Linked DNA regions of Homo sapiens. The protein of the gene in region 3 interacts with the protein of the main gene of each other region in a pairwise test. Each region holds a gene or a part of one and is shown on either strand. Other genes may lie near its edges. The genes, in order: ZSCAN23, DCX, BICD2 and YES1.

Region 1 (7,035 bases), on a different chromosome or scaffold from region 3:
GGTTTTCCATTTCTTTGTCTCCTGGACCTTGTGTAAAGCTTTGTAAAGAGTTACTAAGTCAATGTTAAGGGAAATAAATTTTTTTATTTATGATCTTGGTGGTAATCAATAGTAAATGCTGAGAAAATGTGGAGGTTATAAAAACAATCAACATGAAAGAGTGATCATACTCTTCTCTTCAATCTTGAATATGTTTCAAATTTTCCATACAAAATATTGAATAAAGGAGAAAAAGGCAAAAACAAAAAAATGCTCATTATATGTTACGGGAAAAATACAAAGAGGCCTGTATTTTCCAATAAGAAATCTGAGGTGAGATATCAGATTTTTAGCTAAGTTTCTTAGCCTCTGCGTAAATTTAAAATCATGAGCAATATTTGTTATGAGGAGCCACTGAGCTGCTAATAACATATGGCTGCTTCAGTTCCTTGGTTCCTAAAGGCTAACTAAAAAATCTATAGAAATCTAACTTACTATAAATCTACATTTATATAGGAGGATTCATCTGCCCCTTTTTGTAGGTTACAAAACAAATTATCATATTTTATGTGAATGGAAAGAAGTCAGGAAACCTATATTATGAATTTTATTACAATTATTTTTAAGTTAATTTTTAAATACTCGGTGAACTGCATTTGAGATTATTTTGTACTCAGCCTACATATAACTATTTTAAACTTTTAAAAAAAGTTTTTAAAAACTAGGATGAAGAAGTTTTCCTGAAATAGAAAACTTCTTGCACAGATGTGTGTGAAACTAGGTCTACAGCATACATGATGAAATCAACACAAGAGGCAACATTCAGTATTGCAAAGCTGTGGATGTCACTGATCAGAGAACTCGGCAGATGTATTTAAGATATTATGCTTCTCTCTGCATAAAAGTAAGGGAATTTTTACTGGCTTTCCCTTGAACTTTTCTATGCTAGAGGACACAGCAGGGACAAAGTAAGAAATATTATCCCCTACCTGTTCCAAGGAGCTAGCTTGATTCAGCCACTGGGTGGACTTTCCGATGCTGGATTAGGTTGCAATGGTAAATGAAGTTCTTGCCACATTCTTCACATTCATAAGGTCTCTCTCCAGTGTGAATTCTCTGATGCTTAATGAGGACTGAACGTCGACTAAAACTCTTATTGCACTGATTGCACTGGTAAGGCTTCTCCCCAGTGTGAATTCTGAGGTGATGGAAAAGCCCGGCATTCTGGCTGAAGGCTTTGCCACAAACACTGCACTGGTAGCGCTTCTCCCCAGTGTGGAGTCTCTGGTGCTGGAATAGGCCTGACCTCTGGCTGAAGGCCCGCCCACACTCATCACATTCATAAGGCTTCTCACCTGTGTGTGTTCTCTGGTGCTCGATAAGGATGGAATTCTGGGTGAAGCTTTTTCCACATTCACTACAGATATAGGGTCTCTCCACTGAAGAGCTCACCCTTTGCTTTTCCAATCTGCCCTCACGGTCACAGGTATCTCCATACTCAGGAATCTGAGTAATATTACCATTCTGTTTTCCAAGAACTTGTATAAGAGATTTCACTTCCTGAGAAATCTCCCTCTTTGGGGCTAACTCCACATTCCAAGTCCCAGCCTTGCCATCTAAAATAACGATAACATGAAAGATAACATGAAGTATGAAAAATAACAGATTATCTTTCCAAAGACAAAAGAAAAAAAGTGGCCAGGAGAATGGGTGGAAGGGGACAAGTAGCCACTTTTTCTGTTTATTTTTCCACTCTAAAGCTATTATACCCAGACCTCAGGGAAAAGATGCATGGTATTATAACTGCTTACTTAATTGTCTGCCTCTCCCACTAGACTGTAAACTTCGTGAGAGTGGGGACCACATCTGCCTTGTTTATCACTGTATCCCTGGTACCTGGCACAGTGCCTGGCATACAGCAGACACTAAATAAATGGGTTGAATTGATAAATATTCAGGGAATGAGGTAGGCTGTCTGAGGAAATCCTGATCCTCACCAATCTCTTGAACTGGGCACACCTCTCGCAAATTATACCCAAGTTGCTCTTCCAAGGTTTGGAATTGGTCATTTGATGACTCCTGAGCTGCTCCTGGAGTTGCCTTCTCCTTTACAAACTCTTCCTGTTCATGAGCATGGCTCAGGACCTGGTGGAAATCAAGGACAGTTGGGAACCCAATATCAGAGAGAACATGGCAAGGAGGCCTCCTCAGGGCCGCTGGATAGAAAAGAAGGACCAAGAAGCTGGCAAAGAAAAAACAGAGGCAGAGAGACTAAAAGCCTACAGAAGATCAAGTCTGGCATAAAAAAAAAATCCTCCTCCTCTACCTTTTCTTGTTGCACTGAAACCCCATACTTGTTCTTATAGGTACAAATCCCTGTTCTCCCATCTTCTCACCTGCTCTCCTGGGTCATCCAGCTCTCTCTCCAAATCCTCCAGCACAGTCACTGCCTCCTCTCCACTCACAGGACGGTGCTGTCTGACCCAGGCCTGGAGCTCCTCAGGCAGGATAGTCAGGAACTGCTCCAGCACCAGCAGCTCTAGGATCTGCTCCTTGGTGTGCATCTCTGGTCTCAGCCACTGATGGCAGAGCTCCTGGAGTCTTTGAAGAGCCTCCCGGGGCCCAGGGGACTCCTGATAGCAGAACTGCCTGAAGCGTCTACGAAAGATCTCTCTGGTATGAGGGTTATTTCTTGACAGGCCTGATTCTGGCCCACAGGAATGTTCCTCCTCTTCCTCCTTTACCTTCACTGCCAGAAGTCCTTCCTGCATCTCTGCAGTCTGAAGGGTCAAGGTTATGGCCATCAAAGGTTTAACTATTCAGAAAAATAATCTATTCTTGATAATTCTCCCTTGATCTTTTCTTCTGGAAACCCCGAGATCTAGACAATAATTTACGAAGAAAAAAATATAAAAATGCAGAAAACCTCAGGACAAGGAGGGACTGGAGTATTTACACTAAAATCAGTCACTCTGTCTCATGAAGGAACACCAAAACCTGATTAATGATAGATACTTTAGAAATACAAATCCAGATAATATAGGAAGAAAAAAGAAATGGAACAAAAACGCCTACAGTTTTCTGAAGGAAGGTACTGTTTCAATCATCCTGACCGAAACAGCTCAAATCAGCTTGAGTATATTGGGTTTCCATTTGAATAGCAAGATACTAAATTCAGGGTAAATTTTAGCTGTATGAAGGTAAAAAAACACTTTGGGCCCAAGTGGTCACAGATGACACCAAGAATCAAGAAGAAAAGGGAAACAAATGGAGGATGGAGGGAAAGTAAAGAATATAAAAAGAATAAGAACCGTAAGAAATGCACTTGGAGAGAGGAGGCAGAGTCCCTCCAGCCATAGAAGGTAGAGTCCCTCCAGCCATAGGAGGTATGGAGGAGGGAGATCTAGGTTTAAAGTGTGTAAGGTCTTGGACTGAGACATCAACCTGCAGGTATTCCCTCCAGAGTCTTGGGCTTCATGTTTTGAGCCTTGGTCTCTTCAATCTATAAAACAGGAATCCTAAAACCAACACTGCCTATCTTTCTAGGTTGATACAAAGATAAAACGAGGATAATGAGCACAAAGAAGTTGGCTACTTAGTAAACTCCAAAGTGGTAACACTTATTTTTCTTATGTTATTGTATGATTAAATGAATATCCTAGTGGTTTAAGGCTAAGGCAAAAGAATCAGAAAGTAGTTGACTGCAGTGGTCTAGGCTCAGAGATACTAAAATGACGGAAATATTGGTTCCAGTACTTTAAAACAGGAGTAGAATTTGACCTTTCTCTTGCCCTTTAATTTCTTTGAAACTTTTTCTCTTTGAAGCTACTTGAAGGTGGAGAGTAGGCAATTTTATGTAAAATAAAATTACTGCTAATAAAAAGACAAATGTCTATGACTCCTGAGGTCAGGAGTTCGAGAATAGCCTGGCCAACATGATGAAACCCCGTCTCTGCTAAAAAATACAAAAATTAGCTGGGCTTGGTGGCACACGCCTGTTATCCCAGCTACTCAGGAGGCTGAGGCTGGAGAATCGCTTGAACCCGGGAGGCAGAGGTTGCAGTGGACTGAGATCACACTACTGCACTCTAGCCTGGGCGACAGAGCAAGACTCTGTCTCAAAAAAACAAAAACAAAAACAAACAAACTTATGAGCAATCTTTACCAGGATAGTAATTAATGAAGAAAATTTTCTGAAAGAAAAACAATTATATGACCCAGTGATTTCTAAGCACCATCTTCGAGTAGAGACTTTCAAACTTTTTTGACCAGGACTCTTATTAAGAAATATTTTATATTATAACCCAGAACACACATGCATATGTATATATGTTTGTGCATTTATGAGATACACAAATACCTAAAATAATAATTTCACAAAACACTATGTATCCTTGCTCTATATAGTGACATACAATTATTTTTAAACCTATTTCATTAAAAGACAAAACAAAAAAGCCTGGGAACAGATTTTGTGGGTTATAAAATCTATGTGGTGGGTTGTGACACACCACATAGATTTTATGACCCACAAATGAATAATAACCTGTAGAATAAAATATTTTTGTTTTAAGTAAAATTGTTGTAATCCATTGCAAAAATAACCCTACTCTATTCTGTTTGTTGTTTTTTGTTTTTGTTTTTGTTTTTTTGAGAAGGAGTCTTGCTCTGTTGCCCAGGCTGGAGTACAGTGGCACAATCTCAGCTCACTGCAACCTCCGCCTCCTGGGTTCAAGCAATTCTCCTGCCTCAGCCTCCTGAGTAGCTGGTATTACAGGCACCCACTACCATGCCAGGCTAATTTTTGTATTTTTAGTAGAGACAGGGTTGTACCATGTTGGCCAGGCTGGTCTCGAACTCCTGACCGCAGATGATCCACCCGCCTTGGCCTCCCAATGTGCTGGGATTACAGGCATTAGCCACCGCGCCCAGCAACCCTACACTATTCTTAAGGTGTTGACATGCATTGTGAAATTAAATAACTAAGAATAGGGTATTTTATTAGTCTGTTCTCAAGCTGCTACTAAAGACATACCCAAGACTGGGTAATTTATAAAGGAAAGAGGTTTAATTGACCCACAGTTCAGCATGGCTGGGGAGGCCTCAGGAAACTTACAATCATGGTGGAAGGGGAAGCAAACATGTCCTTCTTCACATGCAGCAGCAGGAGAAGTGCCGAGCAAAAGGGGGAAAAGCCCCTTATAAAACCGTCAGATCTCATGAGAACGCACTGTCACCAGAATAGCATGAAGGTACCTGCCCCCATAATTAAATTGTCTCCTACCGGGTCCCTCCCACGACACATGGGGATTATGAGAAATTGGGAACTATAATTCAAGATGAGATTTGGATGGGGACACAGCCAAACCATATCAGGTATTTAAATTACAAGTGAACACTGATCACATTACAACCCGAAGAAAAATTAGATTCATATTGTGATTATTGGTTATATTTATCAAAGGGGAAACAAACTACTGGCATGGGACAGCATCCTTCCGGATAACCTGCACACATAATCCTCTCCATAAAGTTCTGACATCTTTGGTTTGGTTACCTTCTGTAATCACTACCCCAGGAAATGTACAGAGGATTTTTTTCCTCTAAAGACAGAATCTGCAAATTCATGTTTTCCCCCACTTTTTTTTTTTTTGAGACGGAATCTCACCCTGTCGCCCAGGCTGGAGTGCAACAGCACGATCTCAGCTCACTGCTTCCCAGGTTCAAATGATTCTCCCCTCAGCCTCCTGAGTAGCTGGGATTACAGGCACCCGCTACCATGCCTAGCTAATTTTTGTATTTTTTTGGTAGAGACAGGGTTTCACCATGTTGGCCAGGCTGGTTTCGAACTCCTGACCTCGTGATCTGCCTGCCTCAGCCTCCCAAACTGCTGGGATTACAGGTGTGAGCCACCACGCCCAGCCTTCCTCCACTTTTCTTGGTGCGACTCACCACCACTGTGACTACCATACTATCTTTTTCTGTCATAACTTTTCATACACCATTCATTCACTTGGCAGATATTTATTCAGAGCCTACCAGCAAATATATATTCAGAGCCTACCATATTCCATGTACTGTTCTAGGCACTGGGGATACAGCTGCAATTATAACGAAGTCCCTAGTCTCATGGAATTTACATCCTAATAACAGTATTAATAATAGCGGACATTTATAGTGCTTTTAACGTGCCAGGTATTGTTACAGATGCTTTATATATATTAACCCATTTAATCCTCAAAACAACCATGAATAAGGTGCTATTATTACCCCCATATCACAGATGAGAAAACTGAGATATGAAAAGTTTAAGTTACTAGTCCAAAGTTCAAGTCAGTTACAGATAGTAAGCAGTGAAGCTGCAATTCAAACCCAACAAATCTGACATCAGAATTTACAGTCTCCACTGCTACAACACTAACTTCTGTTGGGGAAAAGAGGGGCCAGGATGAGGAAAACGGGTCAGAGGAAACAGATAATAATTAAGTATTTGTGAAGTAGTGATAAATGCTATAGAGAAAATAAAGGTAAGGAGAGAGAGAGTAAGGGGAAAGAAAGGTTGCTATTTTATAGAGTCAGGGAAGGCCTTGATAAGGTAATGGTTGAACAGACCTGAAGGAAGTGAGGAGCAAGTCACATGGCTATCTGGAGAAAGACTGTTCCATGCAAAGGTAACTGCCAAGTGCAAATTTTTGCAGGTGGGAACACACCTGGATTCTTCAGGTAATAGCTAGTTGAACAATGGCTGGAACAAAGAAAACAAAAGGGAAAGTAACAGGAGATAAAGCAGGGAGCTTGGGAACTGATCATGAAAGGCAGTGGTAAGGGCTCTAACTTGTATTCTATGAGATATGGAAACCACTGGGGATTTTTGAGCCAAGGGGTAACAAAATTTTACTTCCATTTAACACAAAAGCATAACTCTAGCCGCTGTGTCAATGACCTTGGGGTTAAGTGGAGGCAGAGAGGGATGCTATGATAATCATCCAGGGAAGAGATCATCATGGCTTGAAACATGATCTGCTGAATTGGTTCTAGGGTAAGAAAGTTTTGTGG
Region 2 (3,949 bases), on a different chromosome or scaffold from region 3:
CTTTGTGTTCTTTATCCCATTAAAACCTGATCTGAGAAAACTATGTCATCAGTCATTTACGTCTGAGGGTAAATAAGATATCTCCGTGTTTCCTCTCACAGAGAGTAGCTGCACCATCAGCCTATTGAAGAAGAATAGCCACACTGTAAAAGAAATTGCAAGCAGCAGGTAGAGGTATTTTGGGGGGCATGGAGTGTTTCTTGGGCTTCTGAAAACATGGTACTAGAAGTCACCACCTGATGACACAGGCTGACATTGGCCAAAGCATCTTATGCATAAAAGGAGGTCACTTTATTCCTGCTCAACTCTGGGGGGAGATCTGAGATCTTATTTTTTGTAAATGTGCTGTACCAATAATTATGGTGTTTCTATCATACATTTACTCTCAGCTTCTTCTTCTATAAAATTAAGAGGTTGGAAAAAATAATATCTAAGTTCCCTGCCAGCTTGGACATTTTGAGGTTATATGATTATTGGTTCAGTGTTTTTTGTTTTTGTTTTTGTTTTTAAAAGAATGTCAGCCAGAAATATTGAAATCAAATTTTATTTTTGGAAAATGACATTACACACATCTTGCAAATGTACACAGAAATGAGAATGCGATGAAGAACAGAGCTTGAGAGCCAAAATAATTGCAAGAGCAGCTCTTTGGCTGCCTGGTATTGAATGCTGCGAATCTTCAGCACTCACAGTTCACAGCACCTTACACACATGGCAAACTTCTCTAGACAACCTTGAAGTCCTCTGACCCAAGAAAGCCCTCATTGAATTGCGGAGGGGGTGGGGGAAGAGGGGTGTTACAGGCACAGGAGATGAAAAGGGTCTGCTCCAGCTGGTTTATGGGGGCCTCACCAAACCTACCAGTCCAAGTGGGGTCAGCAAACCAAAAAAGGAGAATGCCTCTTGAAATACTGCTTTTGAATCACAATTTCAGAGTAGGTTAGGTATTGCCTAGGACACTGATAGTAATGCATTTGAACTCATGCCCTTGTTTTTTTTTCTGGCTATAACTATTCTAAATAGGTGGCTAAAGTTCTTAAATATCTGTTTTATTTCTCTCATTTTTTCTTTTTTTTTCAAATAATTATTGGTCATCGGTCAAGCAGAGTCTTCTGAGGTCTCTATCTTAAAACAGCTGCAGGGATAAGGGACATCACTACCTACTGTCTTTGGATTACATGTGATTCTGAAAACTATTCAATCCTGAAATGTAATCAAATGGCCAAATACAACCCCAATTTACCACTGATTTTTACGTAAAGTTGAGTCTTTGATCACAATGCTGTTCCTTAAGAAATGATCAATAACTGCTGAGAGATGGTTGAGAAATGCCTTTTCCCCACATTTTGGTTTGTTTGTTGTTTGCTGACTTTACTTGGCAAGAGTTATTGGGCCTCAAATCAGATATTTACAACTGTAAGACAACTGGGAGCAGGGAGAGGGAGAGGGCAAGGGGGTGGGAAGAAGGACTACAAAGAAGAATATATTCTTTTCAGAGGTTAAAACGAGTTAAGAAATGTGATGTACAATACCATGCATTTACTCTCCAAAGCTAGTCACTAGCAAGCTAACACCTCTAACACTACAACCACCAATTACAGCTGTTTTGCTACAGGTACTCAATTCTAACTACAGCTATAGGGCAGAAAGGGTGGGCTGTTTCCATTTTAAACTTTCTCCCTTTGAAAATGGCCATAAAAACATTTTCTGTACAAGTTTAATGGCACAAAAAGGTGATCAAAAACATTTTAAAGAACTTACCACACGTGGGAAATGCAAAATTCAATAAAACATGCATTAGTTGTATACAAGTCATAAGGGATCATTGGCTTCAAGCTGCAATATATTACAGGACCATACATTGGAGACATTTTGGCATAACCTCTTACTTGTTCAAATCCCTTTTGGATAACTTATAAAGAAAAGTCATTGTAAATTTTGGCATTCCATATGGTATTGCCAAGCAGTGACATTTCCAAGGGCTTTGCACTCTGTTTAATAAATTAACACCTACAATCTGGCTTCTTTAGGTCCACTAATTTCTCTTATATGGACTGTCTATTCAGTATCATGAACAGTTGGTGTCAAGAGTAAATGTTTAGGTGACTCAGAAGGAAAAAATACATGTCAATTAAGCAAATGTCTCTTTTTATAGTATAGATTTGTTAAATTATCTTTTCATTTAAATCAACTCCGATTGCCTACCAGTTTAGTTAAAACAGCTCAACAGTTAGCAAGCCCCAAACAAGATTATTATAGAGAGTTTAATGTGTAATGGTAAAACTTTAAGCAATTACTCCCCCACCCCCATCCAGCCAAAACAAATGACAGGAGAAATTACCTGTGGTCCCTCATTATATTATATTGCAGCTTTAAAAATTATGGGCACATCAAACAAAATCAATTATTAGTATTTAGCTGATATAAATCCATGGGTGGATTTTTTCTCTTCAGCTGATTATGTCTCTGAGCACGCTTCACTGCTCCACAAAATGTCAGACTAAAAAGGAACCACAAAGTATTCTGTACAGTGCTTGGAAGGCAAAGACCTAAAGATACATGAGCTATAAGGAAACTGCTTGTAAAGATCTGCTGAGGGGGATTACGAATGAAAATGGAGAAGAAGAAAGGGCCAGGATCAGGTTGATTCCCACCAACATACTTCTGATTGGACTGGGGTAGGACCAGGGCTGATTGAATCTGGAAATAATTTATCATCAGTCCCAAGGCAAAATCACAGGCTAAGAAGAGGCACATGCCCAATGCCTAGACAGGGAGGAAGGAAAAAGTACAAATAAAGATAATAAGAGGGAGAGACAGAATTGCACAGGAGAAAGGATGGATGTTTGTACTGTGGAAAGAGAGACTGATAACATAGAATATAAACTGAGAACAGAGGAAACTAGACAGAGAAAGAAAAGTCAAAGAGATACACAAGAGGTAGAGCGGCAAAAAGCCATTGATTCCCTCAGGTTATTGACCTAGTAATGAGAAACGCTAATGCCTTCAAGTCTTTGCCTTACTTACAAGGTGACTTCTGTTGTGCCATCTGACCTCTCCCAACTAACCTGCCCTTCTGATCAGGAGCAGAAAGATGCCTTAATTACCAATTGGAATTCTATACTCCCCTAGTCTCAGGCATCCAAGGTAAGAAAAAATCACCTCTGATTCCAGAAGATGTTGAAGCCAATAAACCAAGGGATAAAAAATTAGTCTTGTCAGCTGGGCATGGTGGCTCATGCCTGTAATCCCAGCACTTTGGGAGGCCGAGGTGGGCAGATAATTTGAGGCCAAGAGTTCAAGACCAGTCTGGCCAACATGGTGAAACCCCATCTCTACTAAAAATAATAATAATAAAAAAATAGCCAGATTTGGTGGCGCACGCCTGTAATCCCAGCTACTCGGGAGACTGAGGCAGGAGAATCGCTTCGACCTGGGAGGTGAAGGGTGAAGGTTGCAGCGAGCCAAGATTGTGCCACTGCACTCCAGCCTAGGTGACAGAGGGAGACTCAGTCAAAAAAAAAAAAAAAAAAAAGTTAGTCTTGTCAAATGATAGCCAATGTCACGCTAGCTAAGCCAAAGCGGGAGGTCTGCATAGATCCTTAACAAGGAAACAAGGCAGGACGCAACACTAAGAGTCTGGGTGTATAAAGACCATACTAGACTTTTGGAGACAAAAACAATTTCTGGGGACCAGGCTTTAGGAGAAAGGGAGGGAAGGCACCTTTTCCTGAAGGGATAGATGGGGCAACATTCTCATGCCTCACCCCAGATGAGCTCCAAAACACTTATGGTTCACTTGGGAGACCAGTCTGGGACTTAAAGCCAAAGCCCTTCAGTGAAGGCAATATATGAGTAAGGCCTGGAAATGGATCCAAGTGGCCCTATGTGGCCAAAGACAGGTTCCAATCATCTTTTTAAAAAATCAATGCCTTTTATTTCCATAGCA
Region 3 (7,035 bases):
ACATGGCATTTAAAATCTGTAATTTCAAACATGAACCACAATGCCGTATGATCTAAAGGCTGCTGAACCACAGCGTGGATACACTTAGCTGAGCTCCTCGCTGGGTCAAAGCACTCATCTCCGAGTCTAAAGCTACACGCTATGGAGCACACAGCTCTGCCTCGTGCTGACACCAGACAAACACGGTGGGAGCTGAGGCGGACAGCTACAGGACCACGAGCATAGACCACGGCACCTGAGACCGTCTCTACGCGAGGAATTAAGGAAGCAAATATAATATCAAAATATCAAAAGTGCACAGGTTGATCGGATAAAAAAAGAACATGTGTAACAAGGAGCCCCCGTGGTGGGCGTTTCCAGTGGGCTCCTGGCGAGCCTGGCAGCCAGGGAAGAAGGGTCTTCGGCCCATACAGAGGCCTTTCCACGCAGCAGCTCGCAGCATGCTCAACATTAAAGCTTTTTTTCCTCCCATTAAAAACCTGGGGAATGCTATTTTGAAAAGAATTGCAGTGGCATATCCAAAAAGTTTCTAAGTGGGCTTTTAGGTTGCCCTTCCTTCCTCCTTGTGGGCCACGAGAGGGAAGGGGAAGGGGCTGCAGTGTGACAGGGCCGGGTGGCCAAGTCCTCCTGGCAGCTACTCTACAGCTGAAAACGGGAGAAAAGAGAGCGTTAGAAAGCGGTCATCTGTCGCTTCCTGTTTATCTGACAATTGAAGCTCTCCACGTGCTGGGAGGGCGCGAGCACGTTAGTTGGCAGAAGAGAAGACCTGCATGTGTTAGCAGGGGTCCCAGTGGCTTGGGTGTCTGCAAAGTCCCTTAGGAGTATGGAGAGAAGCTATGTGCCAGGCTTGCAAGGAGAGGGCAAAGCGCATGCAGGGTGGGCATGCCAGCAGCCATCCCACTGCGAGTCTTGCTGGGGCAGGGGGATCTGGGCCCAGGATGAACACGCAGGGGACATACATGGGCGTGTCCTGGAGTCTGGAGGGGACCGAAACATACTCGGCACCAAAGGGAAGAACGCGCAGGGCAGAGAGCTGTGGGAGGGGGCAACACGGTCTCTCACCAGGTAACTCGAATGCCTCTTCCGCATGAGAGACAAGGCAAGCAGCCTGCAGGAGAGAAGACTGCAGCCTCAGGTCCAGCTGGTCCCACAGGGTGATCGGGAAAAAAGTACTGAGAAAAGTTCTGCTCAGAATGTGGGAAGGCAGGTGTGGATGGAGCCTCTGGAAATGGGAGAACCCTACAGCTACCTTTCCTCTTTCTCTGTTGCCATCCCCCAGATTGCACTAAATAAAGAGACCTAAACATCTCCTACCTGTGAATCCTGACAAGTGGCCCTGGCCCTATGCAAAGCTTTCCCAGCACCGGGCTGGGCTCTGGATACACCTGTGGGTGTCCAACCCAGCCAAGCCCTTGGTGGCTCAGACTTCAGGCTAGGGTTTTCAAAGCCCCATGTCTTTGGGACTGAACCCCCTATGGAAGGCCGGATAATTGGCTGCTGGGGTCACCCCAAGTACAAAAGGACGGGCTCTGCACTAAGGACCAAGGTCTGGCCAGGCACTTGGAAAGCTTTTCTCATGAAAAATGAAAACCTGGGGCCTTGGGCCCTGCCAATCTGTCACCTCACAGGCCACTATACAAGCATCCTGATCTCAGAAATGAGAAACCGAGCTCTGGATTCCTGGGTTATGGTCAGCTGTGTCTGTGCCATGTGTGTCTGGCCAGCAGAATACAGGGGCTCAGGGCTGCTCTTCTCTGGGCTTGGGGAAGAAATTCTGCACTTCTTTCCTGAATATGATTTGCAGTCAGATACTGCATAAACTACAACGTACTCCTTTCCATGAAACTATGCCAAGTGCAAAGCCATCCTCTGAGGTCGTACCTATGCTGCAGGCTGGAACCTCCTAAAACTGCTTTCTAGTGCTGACATTAGACACATGCGAGGAACATGCAAGTCTCAACTCAGGTTCTGCCCCTTTTGGGTGCTGAGGGAGCAGGACCAGGACTCCTCCCTTGGGTTTCCCCACGGGTGCGCAGGGCTTAGAAGATGCTTTCATCACACATCTGCTGCAAGAATGTGCAGCTCTATCCCCACCTCTGACCCCCACCTAAGAGAGCAGCTGAGGACTGGGTGCTCCTGAGGGGGCTTTGAGGAGTGAGAAGCGACACAAAGCTCTCACAAGTGTCCTGCTGATGCAACGCCCCATGGCGCCTCGGCTAGACTCCTACCCTCTGTGCATTAGTCACGTTAAGATTGACCTAGCACCGCCGTCCCGCTGCTGCTGGGTTAGTTGAGGTGAAGCAGATGTTAGCTGCAGCGTGCGGCGCCCCACAGCCCCTAATCACAGTAAATGCTGTGCTTCTCGCTGCAGAACACCTGGTTGGCCAGCCCGGTGCCCTCGGCCCTGTCGCTGGCACAGGCACAGGTGTGACTTACGCTCGGTGTGGCTGGCTTGGTCTTCGGGGCGGCTTTGGCACGGCCACGCCGGGTCTGCTCATGGTCCAGCTCGAGCAGCTCCAGCCGCTGGGTCAGCGCCAGCTTCTGCTGGATGGCCATGCGCAGCAGCGAGTTCAGCGTCTTCTTCTCGTCCTCAGCAGCCGCCAGCTGCCGCTGCATCTCATCCAGCTGTGTAATGTACTCGTCACACCTGTGGGTACCAAAAACATGACTGAGGGGCGGGCAGAGCCGAGCAGAGGAGGGCAGGGCAGGGCAGGGCTAAGCTGCACGGCCCTCTGACAGCCCTATACCAGAGCCATCCTTCAATGTGGCCTCTGGACTGGAGGGTGTGGCTGGGGAAGAATTATTCTGGCTTATTTTAGCACAGGCTTTGCTTGGACAAATCCCTGATAAGGGTGAGAGGGAGGCTTGGGCCCAGGCAGGGCAGCCCTATGAGGCTGGCTTGAGTTTTGTGGTTTTGTGGGGGAGGGGCTGCTTTGCTCTTTCAGCTGCATGTAGTGCTTACAAACAGGCTATGCCCCTCAGCGACTGGGCTTCTTCTAGGAGGCGCTCTCCCCGCTTAAAGGCCTCGAGGTGGCCTGGGGCATCAAGACATGGAGAAGCCATGGCTTCTAGGGTGTGGATGTAAATCTAAGCAGGACTGGGCTTGTTCCCAAGGTCGATGCTTCGTCAGTCTGTGCTGAGCACTGACCAGAGCCAAGGAACCACGTGTGTGGACGCCATCAACAGCTTCATCCTGAAACCCGGGTGCGGAGCTGTGGGAGGGTGTGGTCTGTCCCTGGATGCCCTTCTTCCACATGTCCCATATGGGTGGGGCTTGGTAGAGACAAAGGGCGGGTTAAATCCCAGGGCTCCCAGGGCGGTGAGGCTGTGCAGGCACTGAGCACAGCCCCACCCTGCCCACACGCACCCTACTCTGCCTGTCCCCACCTGCCAGGAGCCGGCCCTTGGATAGCACCCTCTCCAAGGACTCTGCTGCCCACCCTTTTGAGGGCACACAGAGCTGTGATCCCTGCAGATTCAAAATCTTGGCTCCATCTGAAAAGTTTTTAAATAAAACAAATTTTAAAAGGTAGGGTTTACATGCCAGATACTGAGAAACTGTGGGATTTTTTCCCCAAGCCCCAGGAAGACAGGACGCTTCCAGAGAAATCCTGGGACTCTTCCTTGTCTGTACCCTGCTCTGGCACGTCCTGCAGGGATACTGAGAAACTGGGAGTGCACGGCACCAGGCTTGAGAGAAGCAGGCCCTATGTGCATGCAGTTCCCACCCTGTCCAGCTCAGATCCTCAGCTTGCTCACCCATAAAAAGGAAACATCTAGGTTATCTGCTGGGCCCATGGTGGGCCTGGCTGTCCCCCATGCAGGGCTGACCCCATGGTGCTATCCCAACATGACCCAGCAGGTGGCGCTACCCATCTTTGGAAAGTGAAAGACAGCGGTACCTGTCAGGGGGCACCTGGGAAGATGCTGAAACCAGGACCTGCCCCACAGAGGCCTGTGAACACTTAGGGAGCCTCGATTCCCAGCCTTGGGGTCTGAGTCCCAGCCAGGGAGGGGTGTGCACCCACCAGGGGCAGCCCACCTCAGAGCCCATTACTAAGAGCCCTCCACAGAGGAAGAAAGAAAGCTGGTCTCCTCCAAGCCCCGGCCCTCTCCTCACCCTCCCCAGATTGGCAAAGTAGAGGATGGGAGGTGAGTACCCAGCGGTCACAATGACGCAGAGGTACAGGGCTATGCACAGAGGTGGGACCCGAACTGTGGACCCCAGCAGTGACCTGCTCCAGCCAGGAGGATAATCTTCCTTCTGAATCTACAAACATAAATACACACTTGTGCCATATGGCCAAGTTCTTGGGGGCAAATACCTCATGAGAGGAAAGGCCAGGACTCCTCTGTCACCTGTTGGCCCCAAGTTAAGTCCCTGTAAATGTTGGATTCAAGGGGTGGGAGCCCAAGCATCCCCTGAAGCTATGCAACTCTGGCCCATCCACTCCAGGATCTGCTCTCCTCAGCCCTTCTGCCCTCAGTCTCCATATATGCAAAGCAGAGACAAGCCTGGGCCTGCTGCGGTTTCATTCACAGCAAAATGGAACCGGCGCCACAGAACCAGGCTCCTGGGGGCTGGGCTAGGTGCAAAAGGAACATTAAAAGGATCACACACGCTCTGCTATCCCCGGCCACATGTGGGCACCTGCCAGGCATGCCCTATGCTCCAGCAACTGCTTGCGTGACCTCGGAGGAAGCTGAGGTGCAGCAGCTAGGGGCCCCCAACCCCATGTGGCCCCCATATCGCCTCACCCTTTCTTGTCACCAACTTGAGCACCAGTGTGCCAGAGATGTGCCAGGGGCCATGCTTCCCCAACCTCGTACCATGCTGGCCCTGATGGAGCTGGGCACAGCCACTGACTAGTCAGGGCTGCAGGCCTCAGCATGAGGCAGTGAGAGGCTAAGGGTTCCAGAGGCAAGTGCTGAGGACAGCTGGCCTTGTGGAAGGGGAGGGCCCGACAGCAGCACGGTTACCTGGTGGCAAACATAGCACGCAGCGAGGAGAAGGTGGCTGCGTCCTCCTTGAGGGCCTTGAGCTCATTGCGCAGCTTCATCATGGTCTCGGTAACCATGGCCTTCTCATTCTCATACTTGCTCTTCAGGTTGGCAAGGGCCACCTCGGCCGTCTGGGGGACAGATGTGTAGGGTGGAAAAGTGAAAGGCGTGAAGTCAGCCTAGAGGTGCTCTGGGAGCAGGATCGGGAGCCCCGGTCTGAAGTGGTGGCAGTGCCTGGGAAGAAAGCTCCTGGGAGGCCCCTCCCTGTGACAAACCCTGGGGATGGACTCCAGCAGCTACGCCATGGGGAGTCCCACCTGCTGATTCTGACTGGCAGAGGAGGGACTGCCCCTAAACCTGCCAACAGGACCTCCACGAAGCCCCACAATTGCTCTCCACAGCTCAGACTATGGCTCTCACATGTTTTCCCTCCAGTATCAGGAAGCACTACGAGGCAGTCACAGTGAGTCAAGGGCAGCGGCATTTCTCACTGGCTGAGCAGCTCTGCTGAGGGGCCCTCACACCCACCTGCCTGCTCCACCCTCCCAGCTGGGGGCCCTGAGCAGGGGAGGGTAGGCAGTCGAGCTACTATGGGGCTGGCTCTGTCTGGTGGTGACGCAGGCCTGGGGGGGCCCCGTGGCAGGGGGAGGAAGGAGGCCAAGGGGGAAACACCCTTAGGCCAGTAGTAGGTGACATGTGCCCCTGCTGCCTGGCACCTCACCTGCTTGTTGGCCTTGAGCACAGTGCGCAGCGTGGTGATCTGCTCCCGCTTGGTGCTGAGCAGCGACTTCAGCTTGAGGATCTCCTCCATAAGCGCTTCCTTGTCCTTGTCCACGGCGGGGCCCAGCTCCTGAGAGGCAATGCGCTGGCGTGACAGCTCCGTGGTGCGGTCCACGGCTGCCTGCAGGTGCTTGATCTGGTCACGGATGATAGCGATCAGGTTGTAGATGTTCATGGGCTCCCGGCGTGGGTCACTCAGGGGTGATGGCAGTGAGGAGCCAGGCGAGGGGCTGCTGTCCCCCGTCCCACCATCTGCTCGGCCCGCCTCAGGAGCCAGCAGCCCCTTGGGTAGGAGGATGGGTGAGCGCCGGCCACGCGCCTCGGGGCTGGTGCGGCCCCCGGGACTGGTGCGGCCGGCCCCGCCCTGGCCCTCGCGGTAGTAGTCCAGCATGACACGGTTGGGTGTCTCATTGTTGCACATGCACACGTGGTGGTAGAGATTGGCCAGCTCCTCACTGAAGGTCACCAGCTCATCCTGGGCCACACTCAGGCTGCCCTGTGTCTCGCCGGCGACGTCGCTCACCTTCTTTAGCTCCTTCTCCAGCCGGGCCAGCAGCTCGCGGTCCTGGCGGCTGGCCTTCTCTAGCAGGGAGACCTTCTCCGTGAGTGCCTGGCCCTCAGCCTCATAGCGGCCCTTCTCCTCGGCGTGCTGGGCCTCACGAGCCTCGTGCGTGCTGCGCAGTGCCTTGAGCTGCTCGCGGAGCTCGCCAGCCTCAGCCACAGCCACATGGTACTTGCAGGCCAAGATCTCAGGCCCGTTGATGTCCACCTCGTAGTAGTCCCCATCCTCATGGCTGTCACGGTCCTTCTCGTTGTCCAGGGCTGTCTGCCGCTCCTTGCTGGCCTGCAGGCGCCGCAGGGCACTCAGATTCTCTGTGAGGCGGGTCACCTTCTCCTGCTGTTCTGACAGGGAGCCCCGCGTGTGCTCCAGCTGCTTCTGTGTGTCCTGCAGCGTTGCCAGCAGGCCCGCCTTTTCCCGCTCCATCTGCAAAGGCACAGGCAGCAGGACACCATGTCAGTTGCTATGGACCCCGAGAGCTTGGAGGACCCCCAAGATGGCCTAGTGACATCCCACCCCATGTCAGGGCAGGCTGTCAGCCCCAGGTTCCTTGGCCATGCTGTCAGTGAGGTGGACAAAGACACACAGGGTGTGGAAAGAATGGAATTCATGCTGGGCCCTCAGAACACTAACCGTCACCAGTAATGGTGGTCACCCTCAACGCAGGCTCTTTCCCCAACCATGCTACAGGGGAT
Region 4 (7,035 bases), on a different chromosome or scaffold from region 3:
CATCTCTCTTAAAAAAGAAAGAAAATAAAATAATTAGAAAGTATTGCCAGGCGTGGTGGCTCATGCCTGTAATCCCAGCACTCTGGGAGGCCAAGGCAGGTGGATCACCTGAGGTCGGGAGTTCCAGACCAGCCTGACTAAAAATACAAAAAATTAGCCAGGCAAGGTGGTGCACGCTTGTAATCCCAGCTACTCAGGAGGCTGAGGCAGAAGAATCGCTTGAACCTGGGAGGCAGAGGTTGCAGTGAGCGGAGACCACACTATTGCACCCCAGCCTGGGCAACAAGAGTGAAACTCCATCTCAAAAAAAAAAAAAAAAAGTATTAATTGAACATTCTCTGCCAGCAATTCAAATGTACTATTTAATGAAGAAGAAAAAAGACAAGAAATCTCCCTTTCCATCATTGCTCCTCATTCCTAAGAAAGTTATGGCATATGGAACAGGCTTGTAGTCAGCCCTAGGTTTAAATCCCAGTTCTGCCGGTTGTGTGACCTTAGCAAATTATATATACTTTCTGATTCTCAGTTTCTTTATCTGTAATAAATACCTACCTCAAGGGGCCCAGCACAGTGGCTCACACCTATAATCCTAGCACTTCGGGAGGTTGAGGCAAGTGGATCGCTTGAGCCCAGGAGTTCGAGACAGCCTGGGCAACAAGGTGAAACCCTGTCTCTATTCTAAAAAAAAATAAAAATAAAAAACAGGCTGGGCATGGTGGCTCACACCTGTTTTCCCAGCACTTTGGGAGGCCGAGGCGGGAGGATCCCTTGAGCCTAGGGGGTTTAAGATCAGTCTGAGCAACATGGTGAGAAATTTTGAATTTTAAAAATTAAAAAAAAAATTAGCTGGGCATGGTGGCTCACAACTGTGGTCCCAGCAGCTACTCAGAGACCAAGGTGGGAGGATCACTTGAACCTGGGAGGCAGAAGTTGCAGTGAGCCAAGGTTTTGCCACTTCATTCCAGCCTGGGTGTCAGAGTGAGACTCCGTCTCAAAAACAAAAAATAAATACCCATCTCATTCCTAATTTTTCTGTGTATTTTGGAAACACATTTCAAAGATTCAAGTCAAATGTGATAATGCATATAAAAGTATGGCATAGCACCTATCATAGGACAGGCTTTCTTCTTTCCCTACCCAATGCCAAAGTGAGGTGAATGGGTGGGAAATAAAAAAAGCACAGAGAAGGTAAAGAAGTTACAAACTCCATATTGTAACACTCCTCATTTTCCCAAACCCTTTTCTACTATTTTTGTTTATTACCCCCAATCTTTTGAAGCTTTTCTATACCTCATACTGTCCTATAGGGTTAGAGTATGAGGCAGGTTTCACTGCCACTAGCAAGCAGGTGGGGAAACCTAGGGAAGTTTCTGTACTTAAATTAAGCTTAATAGCAATGCCTTATTGGGAGAATCTGAGTCTCCTAACAGGGAACTCAAAACAGTGATTTTTAAATAGTGAGGAGCTGGTAAGGTGGGAAAGGAGGGTGACTGGCAAGGCTACAGGTTCACCCACCTCATAATCAGAGCACTTGTAGGCCAAATATTTTATTTGTTCAAAGAGCTCAGCAGTTAACAAAAACCAGGCAAAAACTGATAATCAGTCAGAAAATATTTTACCACCAAAGTATTATTTTACCTATTTGTGAGGCTTTTATAAGACTCCAACGGGCTGCCTAGAAATCAGGCCAAAAGGCTTATGTTACAGAAAAGACTTCCTGGAAAAACAGATTCTAATTTTCAAAACATCAACTTACAAACTTTCAGAACACTGTAATTTTAGTTTCTTTGTTTTAGAAAATCTATTTTACAAACCTTAAAAGGCTAACCATTTTCCAATGCCATGCTTGTCTTGTTCTAAATATTAACTGTATGTGTATAAAGACAAATATCCAGAACAAGTTGTCCATACCTTTGTCAATTAAAAAAATTAAATGTAAATTTTGATGATAGTGGCTATTTTTCTCATATAATGTTGCAAAGTTTTTATTCAAATAGCCACGATTACTTGTTAACTGACATCATAACTATCCACTTCAACAGAATAATTAAGTCATTTTTCTAATTTTATTACGAAAAAATCTGGGCTAGGCACAGTGGCTCACGCCTGTAATCCCAATACTTTGGGAGGCCAAGGCAGGCAGATCACCTGAGGTCAGGAGTTCGAGACCAGCCTGGCCAACATGGTGAAACCCCCATCTCTACTAAAAATAAGAAAATTAGCTGGGTGTGGTGGCACACACCTGTAATCCCAGCTACTGAGGAGGCTGAGGCAGGGAGAATTGCTTGAACCCGGGAGGCAGAGGTTGCAGTGAGCCGAGATTGCACCACTGCACTCCAGCCTGGGCAATAGAGTGAGACTGAGTCTCAAAAAAAAAAAAAAAAAAAAAGGCCAGCTGAGGTGGCTCACACCTGTAAGCCTGGCACTTTGGGAGGCCAAGGCGGGCGGATCACCTGAGATAGGGAGTTGGAGACCAGCCTGACCAACATGGAGAAATCCCATTCTCTACTAAAAACACAAAAATTAGCCGGGTGTGGTGGCACACGCCTGTAATCCCAGCTACTTGGGAGGCTGAGGCAGGAGAATCACTTGAACCCAGGAGGCTGAGGTTGTAGTGAGCTGAGATCAAGCCACTGCACTCCAGCCTGGGCGACAGAGTGAGACTCTGACTCAAAAAAAAAAAACACAAACCAAAAACCTAGCATAGTAGTATAAATGTTTGCTTAATTAGTAGAACTGCAATTTGCTTGAGAAAGTTCCGTGTCAAGTCCATGGGTCAGTTTTTTATAATCTTTACTTATATCTAATGTGATTCCAAATTTTAGACTCAAACATTTCCTTAAAATTTTATCAATACGGTCATGCATCACTTAACATATATTCTGAGAAATGCCTCATTAGGCAATTCTGACATTATGTGAACACTCTAGAGTGTACTTACACAAACCTACGTGGTATAGCTGACTACAACCTTGGGCCATATAGTATGGCCTATTTCTCTCAGGCTACAAACCTGTACAGCACACAACTGTACAGAATACTGCAGGCAACTGTAACAGTATTTGTGTATTTAAACATAACTAAATGTAGAAGAGATACAGTAATTACACAGTATAAAAAAATAAAAAATGGTACACCTATATAGGGCAGCTCTACTATAATCTTACAGGATCACCATCATTGAAACTTCCTTAGGCAGAGCATGACTATATTGTAACAACTTCAACTGCGGCAGAGCACACATTTATATATAAAGCTGAGAAACTATTAGAAACCATGAGGCCCAACTACCTTTTGTTTCAAATTGCAAAACTAACGCCTAGGGAGTTTACTGAATCGACCAAGGCTAAACAGCTCTTCACTGTCAGAAATGAAACTAAAATCTAGATAGTGTTAGTGCTCTACCTTCCAGTCCTTTCCTTATAACACCATATTGCCTTCTCTGCTCCTTCCAAATGTCTGGCTGCTATTATTTTTAAAGTATCCTTATCTGTAAAATATTAATCACATCAGAACAAAAGTTAGAAGTCAATACATTCGCCAGGAAACAATGTGAAGTATTAACTTATACACAACCACCACCAACTTCCTCACCTCACCCCAATTTCTACTTAATGCTAAGAAACTGAAAAGTTACATTAAAAAATTAGAGAAGTGAAAATCCTCTTAAGTCAGTTGAAGAAAACCTAGAATCCACATTTTGCTGGGAATAGAGGCTGAAAACCAGACAATCTTGAAGTTTCAGGGGTCAGTACTTTTCCTCCTAGCACTTCCTGTTCCGTCCTCACCCCCAATAACCCAGCAAAAGTACACCTATGAATTATGCATTCCTTCACACACATTACTGCAAGAAAATCAGGACTTCTTTTTCTTTTTGTCCTAGGTATATATGAACAAGTCATAATTGTAATACTGATTGTCACTACTGTGATGAGATACCAAATGCATTTTTTAAAAATCTAGGATTTTTCTTCAGCATAACTTGGACTTTCTTCACTAAAATAGTACAACGTATTTATTTAAAATAAACCTTACTAGAGACTAGTTTAACTTCAACTACAATGAATTTTCAGTTCATATTAGAAATATCAAAATGACCTTTAAATTCATATTTGAAGGACTGCTTAAGCTATTTTGTAAAATCACCTTCTAGAACAAAACCTTGAGAGCAAAAATCTAAAGAATTAACTTCGAGCTATGAAAAAGTATTAAGCTAGTTTTATAACATTTTAGTAGAGGTGTACTCAAAAGATTTGTTTTGTTTGCGAAAAGTCCATAGCTGTAATTCATATAAATCTGCCCAGAACCACATCCCTACATACAATTCAGAATTTATTTAGTATTTATTGTGCTAAGGGCTGTTCTCAAAGATTGCTATAAAACAGTTCCTTGACACAGTGAATACTAGGTCAAGAATAACAGACAAGCATGGAAAGAAATAATTACAGTGCAAGGAGAGGTGTGTTTTGACATAAGTGTTTTGTGGGAGCACAAAGAGGTCATAACACCAATCTCTTGCTAAGTATATGCCATAATGATGTGTACTTCTTACTGTTCAAATGCATGGTCTAACTGTACCTCATCCTTCCTCTGGTTATACAAGTTTGAGCACTACTTTTCTCAATCCTCTCTAATCTCCATCCCAAATGCCAAACCCCAAACTACCAAATTCCAAAGACAAGATAAGTCAAAGGAATATCTCCAGATTTTCAGTAGATAGTAGTGGTAAAAGTAAGGACAAGACGCTGCTGTGGCTGGGTGTGGTGGCCTGTAATCCCAGCATTTCGGGAGGCCCAGGCAGGTGGACTGCTGGAGCCTAAGAATTTGAGACCAGCCTGGACAACACGGTGAGACCCCATCTCTCCAAAAAATTCAAAAATTAGCCAGGCATGCTCCAGTCTGGCCAACATGGTGAAACCCTGTCTCTACTAAAAGTACAAAAATTAGCCGGGCGTGGTGGTGCACGCTTGCAATCCCAGCTACTCGGGAGGCTGAGGCAGGAGAATCACTTGAACCTGGGAGGCAGAGGTTGCAGTGAGCCAAGATCGTGCCATTGCACACCAGCCTGGGCAGTAGAGTGATACTTCATCAAAAAAAAAAAAAAAAAATTAGCCAGGCATGGTGGTGCACACCTGTGGTCCGAGCTACTCAGGAGGCTAAAGTGGGAGGATCCCTTGGGCCCCAGAGGTCAAGGCTGCGGTGAGCTGTGACTGCACCACTGCACTCCAGTCTGGGCAACAGAGCAAGATCCTGTCTCAAAAACAAAGCAAAACACAAAAACACAAAAGATGCGACTGCTGCTATTTGCTTGGCATATTTATAAGCTGAGCAGCATTTTAGAAGCAGCAAAATTTGCCTATGGCATCTTCCAGTCTGGGGATTGCCATATATAGCTGATAACGTATTTGCAACTGTTGATGTCCATCTTCTCAAACGCCAGGGATAAAGAAAGAACAAAAGGAAAAGAATGCAGAGTTCCTACTAGCAAAATTCAGGCAGCCACCACGGATATGCAATGTATAGCTAATTCTAGAAGTTATCCCTCTTGAAGGCCTTCCACTTCCTAGGAGAAAGTAGAGTCCAAAGAACCTATATGCCAGCAATTCTACTCCCCTCCCCTAAACAACAATAAAAGAAGCAATTCTAAGAATCACAGCTTAAAGTGAAATGAAGTATAATGCTTCAAGGAACCTGCAGTCTCACAGCTTACTGTACATTTGAACAAGAGAAACTGAAGGGCATTGCTACCCTAGATTTGGGGGGGAAAAGGAGTTGAGGCACAGAGGCTTGTAACTCAGTCCATTAGTACCTCAACAGTACATTATTCTATACTCTAAAATTACAGGATTCTCTGTCTTTCCTGGAGTGGGCTTTCAGATCTTAAAGGTAAACCCAACGCAGACCAGGATATATTGCCATCAAGTCTGCTAGTTCCAAGACAACAGTAGTGCTGCTGCAGCCAACGATTCCTTGGCATACAGACATGTGAAAACGATATTGGCGGCAGCACTGGCTCTTCTCTTTCACCCTCTACTGTTACTATAGCTCCTTTTGCTAAATCTGCCTCTGAGTTTAGACAGGAGCTGGATGGTTAGTAATCACCCAGCAGCTGCAGCTGAGCAATACTCAGCCTAATTGTGGCACTGGAGCAGCTGAGAGGAAGAAAAGAGATAATACATACCCTACCATAGCCATACACGAACTACCAATAAGACAAGACACTTTAATAGAAACAGATTATTTCCTTTAAAGAAAAGCAGTTGTGCCTCGCTATAGGACTTATATTATAAAACTGTTTAAATGTGAACTGAAGGTGACCTAAGCCATGTAGGGTTCTAAACAATGGAAGATCTTACTAAAACTTCCTGTAAATATTCACACAACAAAGCGTGCACCACAAACATCACCTTTATAACATGACTGAAAGTTCCTGTGATATAAAAATTTGGCACAGATGAGATCTCTTCTTCAACTCTACAACAATGCAAAGCCACAATATCAACCACTAAAATAGCAAGCCATTACATAAAGCAAATAAAATAGCATGACCCAATGATTCTCTGCATTTCTGAAACTCCAACACCATATTGTCATTTGCCTTTTGAACCAAAACATATTCATCCTTCAGGTGCTGTGAATCTTCATAAACTTTAAACAAAAACTTATTTTATGCTGAGATTTCATGGCATTCTTAAGAATAGAAAAACTAAGGCTGAAATTACTGATCTAAAGAATTACTGTTCTAGAAAACCGAAAATAGATAAAAGTCAAAACTTAGGATCTTGATGCCGTAATTGAGTTTTGAGTTTTAATTGTCATGTTATGTAATTTTCAGAAAAACAGAGTATTTGATGACAGAACAGTATCCATTCGTTCAATAAACATTTTGATTATCTTCTATTGGTTATTTACAACATACAAGCCGAAGCGGATTTTAATTTTGTAAAACCTGTGTCTTCTGTGAAAATATTAAAACAATTAAGTTATTAAAGAAAACGAACTAGAACTTTATTTAGAAATTTTTTCCCAAAAATT

The links.
Region 1: the proteins of BICD2 (region 3) and ZSCAN23 interact in binary tests that used the Homo sapiens proteins (3 or more experiments, as listed by UniProt).
Region 2: the proteins of BICD2 (region 3) and DCX interact in binary tests that used the Homo sapiens proteins (3 or more experiments, as listed by UniProt).
Region 4: the proteins of BICD2 (region 3) and YES1 interact in binary tests that used the Homo sapiens proteins (3 or more experiments, as listed by UniProt).

What each region holds. Positions count from the first base shown.
Region 1 is NC_000006.12:28,433,484-28,440,518, forward strand, and holds part of ZSCAN23 (zinc finger and SCAN domain-containing protein 23), read right to left. Parts: exon of another isoform or gene 6,592-7,035; intron 2,861-6,591; 5' UTR 2,784-2,860; coding exon 2,376-2,783; intron 2,125-2,375; coding exon 1,977-2,124; intron 1,596-1,976; coding exon 982-1,595; 3' UTR 1-981. UniProt on the Homo sapiens protein: May be involved in transcriptional regulation.
Region 2 is NC_000023.11:111,293,251-111,297,199, forward strand, and holds the end of DCX (neuronal migration protein doublecortin), read right to left. Parts: 3' UTR 529-3,949; downstream 1-528. UniProt on the Homo sapiens protein: Microtubule-associated protein required for initial steps of neuronal dispersion and cortex lamination during cerebral cortex development. May act by competing with the putative neuronal protein kinase DCLK1 in binding to a target protein.
Region 3 is NC_000009.12:92,712,817-92,719,851, forward strand, and holds part of BICD2 (protein bicaudal D homolog 2), read right to left. Parts: intron 6,767-7,035; coding exon 5,723-6,766; intron 5,133-5,722; coding exon 4,981-5,132; intron 2,648-4,980; coding exon 2,338-2,647; 3' UTR 646-2,337; coding exon of another isoform or gene 640-645; 3' UTR 1-639. UniProt on the Homo sapiens protein: Acts as an adapter protein linking the dynein motor complex to various cargos and converts dynein from a non-processive to a highly processive motor in the presence of dynactin.
Region 4 is NC_000018.10:802,242-809,276, forward strand, and holds part of YES1 (tyrosine-protein kinase Yes), read right to left. Parts: intron 1-7,035. UniProt on the Homo sapiens protein: Non-receptor protein tyrosine kinase that is involved in the regulation of cell growth and survival, apoptosis, cell-cell adhesion, cytoskeleton remodeling, and differentiation.